2 separate regions of the Homo sapiens genome follow, and region 2 is linked to region 1. Evidence: fine-mapped expression QTL. A gene starts in region 1. The other region holds a variant in brackets. All regions are shown on one strand. Distances are between the middles of the regions.

What was found. PIP is the estimated chance that this variant, and not a neighbour inherited with it, causes the effect. A credible set is the group of variants that fine-mapping cannot tell apart.
Region 2: its variant is the best candidate, but not a certain one, in a credible set for the expression of IFIT1B in whole blood (TOPMed, PIP 0.60).

Annotation. Positions count from the first base shown.
Region 1 is chr10:89,376,093-89,379,009 of GRCh38, reverse strand. IFIT1B (interferon induced protein with tetratricopeptide repeats 1B) reads right to left here and starts at 954. Exons shown (of 2, transcript NM_001010987.2): 1 at 870-954. The coding sequence starts at 874. It also overlaps a transcript of LIPA not described here.
Region 2 is chr10:89,291,590-89,294,506 of GRCh38, reverse strand. LOC124902477 (a long non-coding RNA gene) reads right to left here. Exons shown (of 3, transcript XR_007062233.1): 3 at 2,382-2,520. It overlaps LOC105378419 (a long non-coding RNA gene), which reads left to right. Exons shown (of 3, transcript NR_188200.1): 2 at 839-935; 3 at 2,154-2,397. It also overlaps a transcript of LIPA not described here. Among named protein-coding and RNA genes, the nearest start is that of IFIT2, 9.0 kb to the left of the region's middle. The variant A/G (reference allele first, on the strand shown) is at 1,679.

The DNA of each region.
Region 1 (2,917 bases):
AAAAGGATCTCAATGCTCTTGCCCTGACTGGTCCCCGGGCCAGTCTCCTCTCTAGGCTCAGGCCTCTGTTCCCTGGTGAACAGTCTTTAAGTGTTGCCTGGGTAATTGTCCCTCTATTAGAAAGTGCTACAGAAATGACATCTTTGGAAATAAGATTGCTTTCTCGTTTATTTCCTTAAGAGCATTGCTGCTTTTATTAAGCCAGCTACCCTTACTAAGCGAGCTCTGTAACAGGAGTTAGGAAACTTGCCTCTACATATATTCTCATCTTGCCCCTCTGAATCTACTTTCCTACATTCTTCACCATGCTCTGTGCTTGGAAGCTGACTCTATGGACTTTATTAACTCCAAAACTCTTTTATTTTTTACTTTCTACTGGGGTTGGCCCACTGGGGAGCACCAGCCAGATATTAAATTGCAGGAGGAGGTGAAGGTCATGGAATTAATTCCTAAGCTCCCACTGTGCTCTGCTTGAGGTTGTCAGTGATTTTTTCACCAAAGGCCTCTTGAGAAGCCCCTCCCCTACAGCTATAGCTTAGAGTCTCCTTGGGTCTGGTTCTCTCCTCTTGCTCCTGTAGGCCCAGGGTTATCATGTTACCACTGTTGTAAACCAACACGCCTCTTCCCGCTGCCCTGCAACCAACAAGCACCATTTCCTGTTGATTTCCCTAAACTTTGCCCATATCGTCTTAAATAGCCCCCTTATTAAACTCTTCTTGGTTATCATGTTGAGGGTGCCTATCAGGGTCAGAACCACCAGTGGGACAGCTCCCTTAGGAGAAGGCCTGTCAAAAAATTGGCCCTTAAGGAAAGTTTTAGAATTTCAAAGTGTGCAGAAATAAGGTCAGTGAAGCAGAGAAAGACTTTACCTCATGGTGCTATGAAGATAGCAGGTGATCTGTAGTGCTTTGGTTCAGGCTTGGAGGCTCCTTCAAGGTTCATCCACAGAGTTCTAGGGCTTCTCAGATAAGCATGGTGCTTATATATGGGAGGTATATCCAGGCAGTTTTTTACACCCTTGATGCCTAGTGAATTGGCAGGGTGAAAATGATACAGAGGAATAGGGCTGTCTCTGCTTTGATTACAAATACATGCTGAGTTTTGGCAGCTAAGAGGATGGGTGTGTGAGAAGCAGTTTTGATACGCAAATTCCCTTGCTGGAGTCAATGTGGTGTAGGAGATAGAGGGTAACTGGACTTTATGATGACATTCAGTGTTGTGGAAAAACCAGTGGCAGACAGGAACGTATATTTTTGTGAATCATGTCAGACTCTGTTGTCAAACTTGTTACTATCACATGTATCCCGCCAGGTGGTTCCAGGGACGTCTACAATGGAAGCTCCTTAGACCAGGGTCAGTGGTTTGTGCCTAAAAGAATACTGTAGAAAGTCATTGTCAATTTGTGGAAGAATGAGGTTGCAGATGGTTAGGTCTTCTTCTGTGGGGCTGTGTTAGGCAAAACAACTCCTCAATTTTGAGATATTGGTCTATAAGAAGGGTCCCATACTGGTTACATCCTCCAGCAGCATTTGCATTACTGCCAACCCTGGCTATAGTGGAGCCTATTCAAGCATATTGACTGTTTTGATGATCTTTACTGTTCACCATTAGTGGTTCAAACAACAATGTTTGAGCTGGTCAGTAGAGAAACATATGCAATGTAGTCAGAGAATGTGATGGGGTCATGGGGGTTAAAAATCTAAATCCAAATTCACATAGTTCTTCTGAGTTGTCCTTATGTTTCTTCTGTTTCTACTATTTTGAAGATTATCTGTTACAAAGCAACAACCATCAGAGAGTCAATCAAACAATGTTCACATGTTTAATGAAAAATTTATATGATCCCAAGGCTGATGTAATTGCCCACACAATTAGCAGAGAAAAAGGAAAATTTGGAAAGCTGCTATTCTGAATTCCTCTTGTGAATTGTTACAATGTCATCCTGTACGTTTCTGGATCTTGGTTTTGTAGGGGTAGTGCACCAAGATAAGCAAAAGGGCAAAGACTGAGAGCGATTTCCCTCTGAGTGAGCATTTCAAGGTAGGGTTATTAACTTCATTACAGTCTTCTCATAATTACCAAATGAAACTGTAGCCTCGCTGTGCTATTTCTTCTTTGTCCTGGGCCTGTAACTAGACTATATTTCCCAGGCTCCCATGTGGTAAGGTGTGGTCATGGGCATGGGATGGGAGGCTGTCAGGAAGCAGAAATGATTCTATAATTGGGTATCTTAAATTGTGTCTGGAAAAAGAGAAGACTAGACCAAGGTGACAGGTGTAATTTGAAAGGAAGCAGCAGTCATTCATATTGGCCAGTTTAAGGGGCTGCTTGATTATTTTCGAATCCAGTTGGAAAATATTCGTATTTTTGTCTGCACTCAGACCTGATTACAGAGTGGCCTTGTATTTTGTCTTGACCCATCATGGTCACAGGTGTTAATGATGCTCTCAGATGTCTGGGGCAGCTCTTCTCTTTCTTTTCAGGGAACTTCTGAGTTACTGCTCCAGTTACTGCTCCTGACCTTTCTAAAGCCAAAAATTATATAGACAAGAAGGACTACCCAGAAAAGGAACGTCACATAAGATCTTATGCATTCACAGTTGAAATGAGAGCAGACATCTTAGGAAAAGAATATGCTTAAGAAAGAGTATAGTATATAATCTCTCTCTCTATGTGAATTAAAAACCCATCTCCACGTCTATTCAAGGAAGGATTTAGGCAACTTGAGATAGACCACATCTCCCCATTCGCATGAGACAAGTTCCTAGAAGAATGTGCTGGACCTCTTGACTTCTTCTTCTTTTTTTTTTTTTTTTTTTTTTAAGATAGAGTCTCGCTGTATCACCTAGGCTGGAGTACAGTGGCACTATCTCTGCTCACTGCAACCTCTGCCTCCCAGGTTCAAGTGATTCTCATG
Region 2 (2,917 bases), 85 kb after region 1:
ATTATTGAGGGACGGAGTTCCATATAAAAGGATGACTTCAACCTTCTCTTGCTCACCCTCACCCCCTATTTACCCTTCCATCATGGGATGACCCAGTAAGAGGGCCCTGGCCAGATGTGGCCCCTTGATCTTGGACTTTCCAGCCTCCAGAACCATGTGTCCATAAATGTCTGTTCATTATAAATTACCCAATCTCCCAATCTGCCCATCTGTGGTATTCTGTTATAGCAGAAAAAAATGGACTAAGACATTTTTCAGCATTAATTTTTTAGACTGCAGTTGGGCAGTCTTTGAGTGGAAACTTGATGCGGGTAAATGACTTTATCTTTCCATAGTCCTATTCAGAAATAAGACCATGCTAAATAAACTTCTGCTGGGACAATTTGTACACTTATCCCTGTTAGAACACTAGGAGTATTTGTTTCATTCATTCATTCACCATTCGTTCATCAAATCAATACTTACTGAGAATCTACTATGTGCCAGGCACCATTCTAGGCTCTTAAGATACATCAGTACACAAAGATCTCTGTCTTCATGGAGCTTATATTCTATCAGGAAGAGATGGCAATAAACAACTGCTTTGGACTGAATTGAGTTCCCAACTCCTTTCCCAAAATTCATCATTGAAGCCCTAACCCTCAACGTAACTTTGTTTGGAGATAGGGCCTGTGAGGAGGTATTTAAGGTTAAATGAGGTCTTAAGGGTGGGGCCCCTAATCTGGTAACCCCTAATCTGGTAACACTGACGTCTTCATACAAACAAGAAGAAAAAGAAGAGACCTCAGATATCTCTCTCTCTCTCTCTCTCTCTCTCTCTCTCTCTCATCTCACACAGAGGAAAGGCCATGTGAAGATAAAGAAAAGGCTGCCATCTCCAGGTCAGGAAGAGAGGTCTCACCAGAAACCAACTTGGACTTCTAGCATCTAGAACTGTGAGAAAATAGATTTCTGTTGCTTAAGCCACCTAGTCTGTGATTTTTCATTATGGCAGCCAATGTAGACTAATACAATAATAAATAAATTAGACAATATGGGACAAGTCCATGGGGAAAAAAAAGAGTAAGTGGAGACCGTAAGAGGAATTACATATGGGTGGAGAAAAGGGGGCCGGGATCTGGCTGCTGCTGTTAAGTAATAGAGATGGAAACTGTGTTAGTCTGTTCTCATACTCTAGAAAGATACTACCTGAGACTGGGAAAGAGGTTTAACTGAATCACAGTTCCATGGGGAGGGCTCAGGAAACTTGCAATCATGGCAGAAGGCAAAGGGGAAGCAAGGCACCTTCTTCACAAGGCAGCAGGAGGGAGTGAATGTAAGCAGAGGAAATGTCAGATGCTTATAAAACCATCAGCTCTCATGAAAACTCACTCATTATCATGAGAATAATATGGGGGAAACCACCCCTATGATCCAATCCTCCCATCAGGTCCTGCCCTTGACACATGAGGATTATGGGGATTATAATTTGAGATGAGATTTGGGTGGGGACACAAAGCCAAACCATATTAGAAACCTTTCTGTGCCTCAATTTCTTCATTTTTAAAATGAGAATTGTGCCCAGGTACAGTGGCTCATGTCTGTAATCTCAGCACTTTGAGGGGCAGAGGCAGGAGAATTGCTTGAGGCCAGGAGTTTGAAACAAGTCTGGGCAACATAGCAAGACCCTATCTCTACA[A/G]TTAAAAAAAAAAAAAGTAGCCAGGCATGGTGGCATGAGCCTGTCGTCCTAGCTACCCAGGAGGATTGCTTTAGCCCAGGAGTTTGAGGCTGCAGTGAACCAAGATTGCACCATTGTACTCCAGCCTGTGTGACAGAACGTGACTAGGTCTCTAAAAAAGAAAAAGGAATTATGTTAGTATTTACCACATAGGGTTTTGTGGAGATTGAGTGGACTACTATGTATAAAGCTCTGAGAACAGTGCTTGGCACATGGTAAATGCCCAATAAGGGTTAGTTATTACTACCTTCTACTGCCACCCATACCATTTACCATCTTTGAATACCACTTACTTCTAGGGCCAGGGGCCACTCACCTGAAAGTGGTCTGTTCTCTAATGTGGAGCTTTGACTATAGTATTATCAGGTATTGGTGGCTGCCGCTGGATTGCTATTTCAGATCCTTTTTTTCTTTTTATTCGCTTTGTTGGCCACAGTGAGAAACTGGGATGCTACTCCAGAAGAAGACAAATCAGTGCCTCTGTACAAAGGGATCTTTGTGCTGCCAAAAGAGTAGAAAAGTTTATCCCAGAACCAAAATATTTCAGAATTGTGGAAAATCAAGTTTTGGAAACCTACTCAAAAGAAGAAGAAATATTGCTATCACAGAATCCCTGAATTAGTATACACCTAGCCGCTGTAACAAAGATGCTCAAAAACATAAATGACACTGTAAAAGAAGTTTATTTCTTGTTCACATAACTGTCCAAGGCTGGTGTTCCTGGGCAACTTCCAGTTCTCTTCCATGCAATGATTCAAGGACACAGAGTTCTTCCATCCTGTGACTCTACCATCCCCTAGAGCCTGGAAATTGAGAGTAAAGAGGGTACACCTGATTCTTAACCATCTTTACTTGGAAATGACATACATCACATTCACTCACATTCTATTAGGAAGCACTAGTTCATGGCCCACCTGGGGAGAAGTGAAGGTTAGTTCATGTAGCTGCAGAGTAGGAAGCCCCCTTCCTGGTGACGACTTCATATTATGAAGGGGAAACACTAATTTGGAAGGATCATGAGTTGTTTCCACAACAGTATCCTGCTCTGGCCCTAAATAACCATGTATACACTTCTTCCCAAACATAGAACATAATGGGACCTTTCCCAGGGGAGCCAACCCACAGTCAAGGAATCATTGCACTCAGCTCATGGTCAGGGATTTCTGAGTAAAGCACTGTCCTGCCTAAAGGTCAGTATGT